Homo sapiens: one gene and its partner. The protein of the gene in region 1 purifies or fractionates together with the protein of each later gene. This does not show direct contact. Each region holds a gene or a part of one and is shown on either strand. Other genes may lie near its edges.

The links.
Region 2: the proteins of PHF20 (region 1) and SGF29 purify together in Homo sapiens (affinity purification with mass spectrometry, with the first as the bait; one large-scale study listed by BioGRID). This does not show direct contact.

What each region holds. Positions count from the first base shown.
Region 1 is NC_000020.11:35,939,231-35,943,133, reverse strand, and holds part of PHF20 (PHD finger protein 20), read right to left. Parts: intron 2,271-3,903; coding exon 2,087-2,270; intron 1-2,086. UniProt on the Homo sapiens protein: Methyllysine-binding protein, component of the MOF histone acetyltransferase protein complex.
Region 2 is NC_000016.10:28,560,350-28,564,252, forward strand, and holds part of SGF29 (SAGA-associated factor 29), read left to right. Parts: intron 1-3,903. UniProt on the Homo sapiens protein: Chromatin reader component of some histone acetyltransferase (HAT) SAGA-type complexes like the TFTC-HAT, ATAC or STAGA complexes.

The DNA of each region.
Region 1 (3,903 bases):
GCTTAGTTTAGGGCTGGGTACGGTGGCTCACGTCTATAATCCCAGCACTTTGGGAGGCCAAGGTGGGCGGATCATGAGGTCAGGAGATCGAGACCATCCTGGCTAACACAGTGAAACCCTGTCTCTACTAAAAATATAAAAAATTAGCCGGGCCTGGTGGCGGGCACCTGTAGTCCCAGCTACGCGGGAGGCTGAGGCAGGAGAATGGCGTGAACCCGGGAGGCGGAGCTTGCAGTGAGCTGAGATGGCACCACTGCACTCCAGCCCGGGCAACAGAGCGAGACTCCATCTCAAAAAAAAAAGAAAGAAAGAAAGCTTAGTTTATCTTGGTGTTTAAATAAAGAGTTGATTCCATAAAAAGGGATTTTGATTAATCTTAAATACTATGCAAAAGTCTGTTTACCTAAATAAAATCTTTAAGCTTTATCATTTATTTTAATGCTTTCTTGTTATCTCTCTCAGGGCCTAGAGTCTTAGAAATGTACAGAATATGTGGCTCTGAATTAGCAAGACACACAAGAGGTCATCTGTGAGGCCAAAGAAGGGGGTTCAGGCCTACCATCCTTGCCACACTGCCCATTCGGCAGGGCTAGAGAGGCCAAACCTGGCTGAAGAGAGGATTAAGGAAGTAAGATGTGAGTAGACTTTAACTTCTCCCTCAGGGAAGGTCCCTGTGGCAACAACCGAACATTCACCCTGTTTCCATGGTGCTAATCCTCTTTTCAGGGACTACAGAGCCACTCCTACTGCCATTCTCTCAAGAGCTACACTTTTTTGTCTAACATTATATCCTCCTTCAGCTCTCTAATAATATGTTTTTCACAGACAGTGGCATCAGTTACAATCCCTTTTTTTTAGTTTATTTTTTTAGAGACAGGGTCTGTGTTACACAGGCTGGAGTACCGTGACATAATCACAGCTCACTGCAGCCTCCAACTCCTGGGCTCAAGCAGTCCTCCCGCCTCAGCCTCCCAAGTAGCTGGGACTACACCCCTACACTTGGCTAGTTTTTTATTTTTTTGTAGAGACTGTGATGCCCAGGCTGGCCTCAAGCAATCCTCCCACCTTGACCTCCCAAAGTACTGGGATTATAGGTGTGAGCCACCACACCCAGCCTAGGTCTTGCTGTCTCTCTCACTGTCCTCCAACAGGGCAACTCTTTTTCCAGTCTAGCCAGATCATCCACCCTGAGTCCTCTCCAGTAGGAAACACCATCACTCTCCTTAAAGCTCAACTTCAGTCTCAGGAGTTTTAGGAAGCCCTCCTATTAGCACTCTCCTCCTCTGCATTGACATCAGCCACATGTGTCCCGGCCACACCTCATGGCATCACTTGTATAACAGATGGCATTTTCTCCTGAGTTATTTCATGTATGTTTTATATTCCCAGTTACAGTAAAAAATCATAGCCAGACTGTACCCAGAATCCTCAAACAACATTTCTTTTTTAACTGGGCTCCATTTTCAACATGAAAACAAATAATTAGGGAATATTTCAACAACCAAAACCGTCAACTTCCTGGAGAGAGACTGAACTTGATCATGTTCATCATCACCGGTTTGATCCTCCAGGCCTGTCCGTAACCACCAATATCTGGAAGGAATACTCAGGGCTATACAAATGACTCAGGCAAATTCTCAAATCTCTACTGGCTTACGAGGAGAAAGCTTCATTTTAGATTTTATCAAAGATTGGAATAAGAGGTTTTTCAGATTAAATCCTCAGATATCCTAAAACTCAAGTCAAAATTTTAATTTCTCACAGAACTTGTTTGTAAAGATTGGCTTAGATCACATATTTCCTGCAAGCAGGACTGCCAGTTGCCCTCTCTCTGCATACTCAACTTTACAGAAGGGATCAGACAAGTGAGGCAGGACCCAACATCATGCAGATCTTGCACCTGATAAATACTAAAAGTAAGGCTCATCCATCCTGAGGGGAGAATGGAGGTGGGGAGAGGCTGAAAAGAAGAGAAGCAAAGAGTACAGCGGTCCCTGTAAACTCAGACTGGGGGGTTCAGAAAGCAGCTCGTCTGGGGGTGCTCGACTGCATGCCAATGCACAGGGGGCCAATGAAGGAGCCCTACCATCCAACTCCTTCTCAATGGAGTCCATCCTGTGCGTAACTTCATCCTGAAGAGATTCCACATGGGTCAGCAGGTTAAACTGCCACTGGTGCTGGGAGCTCAGCAGCCCCTCTCCACCTCTGTCCAGCAGCTTCCGAGCAGGGGCTTCTTCTGGTAGGGCCTTTTTGGAGACATATTCCTTCACCTGGGGATGCAATGGCATGGAAATTACTGAATGGAGATAGCCCCTGGCCCATTTTTCAACCAGCCAGCATTTCCAGCCACCTGAAATACTAGCTGCAGTTTCAATACTCCAAATCCCTACCTCCCTTTCCTATTTCCCACTTAGGAACTGGGCAGGAGCTTGCCCACTGTACCAATTCCAACTACCTCAGGGTAGCACTCTAGCTCAGGGGACCCACAGCTGCTTCCTACTGACTGGGCCAATGTCCTAGCCTAAAGTAAGCCTCACAGAATGGCTTCCAGAGCCCTGAGAGGTGATTAGAGCAGGGCTAGTGCAGACAAGGGTTAGTACACGGGAGTCACACCAACGCGTTTCAAGTCTCAGCTCCATCTCCTGCGAATGTGCGAGTCTGGATGGACTACTTCATGTCTCTGAGCCTCTGCTTTCTCGGTGGGAGGATGGGGGTACTAAAACCTATTTGGAAGGTTCATGAGGATGAAATAGGGTAAGGCACATAAAAGCAAGGCCAGCTTACAGTCAGCTTACCATCAATGGAAAAGACTGTTAGCCCTGGTTGCTTTGCTGAGGCCCAGTATTTCCTGGCTTTGTTTTATGTGCCAGATACCTCTAGGAAACCTGCCTGATCCACAGGACCACAAACCTTTTCTAGGATTTGGTAACTCAACCTTTCATTCATCCATTTGAAATGAAATAGATTCTAGCCAATATTTATTTAGTACTTACTATGTGCAAAACTGAGGGATTTTACTGAGGGATTTTCACAAATATGTTCCACAGTAACTGAGGGGGCTTCACTGGCCCCATTCTACAGGCGAGAAAACAGGTCTGATCAGGAAAGTGAAGTAACCCGCTCAGAATCACACAGTAAGGGGCTGAGCTCAGAATTGAAACTGCGTCTGTCTCAAAAGACTGTGTTCTTACCACCTTGCCCAACACCGTTTAGACATAGTCAAGGGCACAAGGATGCATGAGATACAATCCCCTCCCTTGAGGGGCTTGTAATCTAGGATCCCCTTGGCACCATGCAGCAATGTATTTAACACTGGTGACACCAACCTGCAGGAGAAAGTCTGGGAAGTAAGGATGATGAGACAGAGAAACTCTCAAATCATACAAAGCCTCACTGACAACTGAGGACAGGGCACAATGAGCCTAGTGAGCAGTTAGAGATGAAAACACCGGCAACGAGGTGATACAAGGGGGTTCTAGAAGAGAATGACTTGAATAACAAAAAACCAAAAGTGGCTCTTGGGAAAACTGATGAAACCAGCAATATTTTGACAAAGTGTACCATTTTTACCACAGGGCTTCAAAGTTAAAAGTCAAAATAAAGCTATCATACAACTGGATTGAAAAAATTCTGCCTAACAAAACATTTGACTCATTGTTTGCTCATGCTAAGAATTAACATCTAGGTGCAATTATAATGCAAACTGCCTTAAAGAAAAGATGAGTTTTGCTAATCCATATCTCCTTGCTACTTCCCACCTCTCCCTCCCTCTGCACCCGCGCCCCCCACCCCACGTGCCACACTTGACTATGCCATTTTGTGGGTGCTTCCTGGAACCAAGGATCTTTGGCTTAAGTGGGCTCTCCTGACTTTGCACCCATTTTGGCAAACCAAAACATATCT
Region 2 (3,903 bases), on another chromosome or scaffold:
GGAGGCTGAGGTGGGTGGATCACGAGGTCAGGAGTTCGAGACCAGCCTGACCAACATGGTGAAACCCCATCTCTACTAAAAATACTAAAATTAGCTGGACGTGGTGGCGCACACCTGTAATCCCAGCTACTCAGGAAGCTGAGGCAGGAGAATTGCTTCAACCTGGGAGGAAGAGGTTGCAGTGAGCCGAGGTTACACCATTGCACTCCAGCCTGGGCAACAGAGCGAGACTCTGTCTCAAGAAAAAAAAAAAAAAGAACGAAAATTTTAAAATATATTTTTACAAAACAGGAAAATATGATCTGTGTTTACAAAAAAAGGCAATGAACGGGCCCGGCGCAGTGGCTCACGCCGGTAATCCCAGCACTTTGGGAGGCCAAGGCAGGCGGATCACGAGGTCAGCAGATCGAGACCATCCTGGCTAACATGGTGAAACCCCGTCTCTGCTAAAAATACAAAAAATTAGCTGGGCGTGGTGGCGGGTGCCTGTAGTCCCAGCTACTTGGGAGGCTGAGGCAGGAGAATGGCGTGAACCTGGGAGGCGGAGCTTGCAGTGAGCTGAGATCGCACCACTGCACTCCAGCCTGGGTGACAGAGCAAGACTCTGTCTCAAAAAAAAAAAAAAAAGGCAATCAACGAAGATCAACCCCAAGAGGACCCAGATGTTGGTATCAACTGACAAGAATTCTAAAAGAGAATCAAAATAATTAGTTAAAATAAATTTTTTTAAAAATTTAAAGCAGTTATTAAAACTTCGTCAGGCCAGGTGTGGTGGCTCACACCTATAATCCCAACAATTTGGGAGGCTGAGTCGGGAGGATCGCCTGAGCCCAGGAGTTAAAGACCAGCCTGGGCAACATAGTGAGACCCCATCTCTACAAAAAGTTTAAAAATTAGCTGGACAGGCACAGTGGCTCACGCCTGTAATCCCAGTACTTTTTGGGAGGCTGAGGCAGGCAGATCACCTGAGGTCAAGAGTTGGAGACCAGCCTGGCCAACATGGTTAAACCCTGTCTCTACTAAAAATACAAAAATTAGCTGGGTGCGGTAGCTGGCACCTGCAATCCCAGCTACCTGGGAGGCTGATGCAGGAGAATTGCTTGAAACTTGGAGGTGGAGATTGCAGTGAGCCAAGATCGCACCACTGCACTCCAGCCTGGGCAACAGAGCAAGACTCCGTCTCTAAAAACAAAAAACAAAAAAACACAAAAGGTGCAGGGGAAAGAAAGAAAGAAAAGATGTGGCCTTCTAAGTCAGTGGGAACACGAGCATGCTAGGAGTCAAAAAGTTTAGGGTACTGGGCGTTACCTCAGCATTCCTAAGAATGCTTGAAACCTTGCTGGAATTGCTGAGCCTCTCAGGGTTTGGGACAGTTTTGTTTACATGATAGAATTGTGATAAGATTAGCTGGCACCCTCGGACTCTGATAAAACCAGCCACTTGGCCTGGAAGTGCAGTGTCCCCTCATCTGGCCTTCCAATTCATTATGGTTCCAACCCCAGGGCCTCATTCCCACTTGCTTTGCACCAGCAGGCTTGGCATTTGTTCTCAGAAGGTCACAGAAACCTTTGCTTCTACTTAGAACATGTTTCCTGGGGAAGTTTAGACTTATGACTGACCAGATCCAGAGATAGCAGCACTTTGATGTAAAATCATAGGAAGAGCTTGTTCTCTCAGACAAGCCACTACCCAGTAGGCAAAGCTCAAACGAGAGCCCTTAAATGGTGTGGTCTTTGGCCAGGCCATCATCGTGGGGTTATTCCTAGGTTTGGCAAGCGTCAGCATTTCTTTTGCTTGTGCGATTGGCTCTTTTGCTCAGTGTAACAGCAGACCCCTGGCCTCCAGATGAGAAGGGCCACTAGCGTTCACTAAGTGCATGCTCTGGGCCGGCCACTGCCTAGGACCTTTCTTAGATAGTTGATCATCAAGTAGGTGCTCTTGTTTTAATTTTATTGAGACCCAGAAAGGTTAAATAATTCATCCAGGGTGAGTGTGAGGCTTTATGAGAACTTTACAGTTGTTCTCTCCCTTCCCCCTCCTTGGACTATTCCTGGAACATGAAGGTCCAGTTCCTTTCCCTGATGGCTGTATGGCAGGTGGCGTACTTCATTTCTTTGTGGGAAATTATACTTGTATTGATGCTGGGCATGCTGCTCGCCTCTTCAGTGTTTTCCCAAGTAAGGTCTGACAAATGGGGATCCAAGCCCTCCTGTATTTCAGGCTTTATTTTGGGTACCAAGATGCAAAGACAATCCATTAAGACAGTTCTTGGCCGCTCATGGTGACTCATGCCTGTCATCCCAGCACTTTAAGGAGGCTGAGGCGGGAGGATTGCCTGCGCCCAGGAGTTTGAGATCATCCTGGGCAACAAGGCAAGACCTCATCTCTACAAAAATATTTAAAAATTAGCTGGGTGTGATGGTACATGCCTATAGTCTCAGCTACTTGGGAGGCTGAGGTGGGAGGATCACTTGAGCCTGGGAGGTGCAGGCTACAGGGAGCCGAGATTGGGCCACTGCACTCCAGCTTGGGTGACAGAGTGAGACCCTGTCTCAAAAAAAAAAAAAAAAAAAAAAAAGACTTAGTTCTTCTACTTTTAAGGGGCTTGAAGTCTGAGTAGAAGACTCTTCCACACATAGAAAGCAGTCTTAAAAGGGTGTGTGTGCTCTGATTGTGGTTATATAACATTTACAGAAGGTGGATACAGAATGAAAATCACTTGAGGTTGTTGGGATTTGCTTTAAAACATCCTTTAATGTTGCATTTTTCTTTCACCTTAATTAGGGGAAAAAGGGAGATAATTGGAAACAGGGGTGACCAGAGTGCTCTGGGGAGGCAGAGGTTCTGTAATAACTGTTGGTAGCCAAGGAGGCCACAAAGAAGAGAGGATGTTTGCGTGGTAAGAGTGTGTTGCCATTCGCCAGATACGTGCCAGAGGCAAGGGACATCAAGGCAGTGGGCACAGTTAGATGGTCCACTTTGAAAGTTCGTGGCTGATGGGATCCAGGGATAGCAAGAGCTTATTGTGAAATTACAAAATGAGGTGGTTCTGCCAGGCTAGGCACTACCCAGTAGGCACAGTGATCTTCCAGACCACGTGGTCAGCTCTCTCCCTGAAAGTTTCAACCTCTGTGTGTTGTGTGTCTATCTGTGTGTCTTTGTCAGCAAAAGCTTTTATGAGATACACACCATTTTTTCTTGTTATATGTACATGGGATATCTTTAAAGGAATACCCAAGAAACAACTAGTTGCCTGTAGCGATAGGAGATTTCGTTGTATTTCAAAAATAATCTGAATTTTTTTACTACGTGCATATATTGTTTACTCAGTTTTGTGTGTGTGTGTGTTTTTCTAGAGAAACAGACTTTTTTTTTTTTTTTTTTTTTTTGAGACAGAGTCTTGCTCTGTCACCCAGGCTGGAGTGCAGTGGCGTAATCTCGGCTCACTGCAACCTCCACCTCCTGGGTTCAAGCGATTCTCCTGCCTCAGCCTCCTGAGTAGCTGGGACTGCAGGTGTTCCTGAGTAGCTGGGACTACAGGCGCACACCACCACACCTGGCTAATTTTTGTATTTTTAGTAGAGACAGGGTTTTGCCATGTTGGCCAGGCTGGTCTTGAACTCCTGACCTCAGGTGATCTGCCCGCCTCGGCCTCCCAAAGTGCTGGGATTAGAGGCTTAAGCCACTGTGCCTGGCCAAGAGAAACAGACTTTATGAACAACCACATGAGACAGTGAGACAGGTGATGAGGACCTAAACTAAAACAATGACAAGTGTGGTGGGAGAGAGGGGGCTGCATTCCCAGCTTGGGAAGCCAGCTGTGCAGCAATGCTGTTAACCAGCATCTAGAAGGCAGAGCAGTGCGGGACTGGAAGTGTGAGCATCTGCGGGTGCATCTCAGTG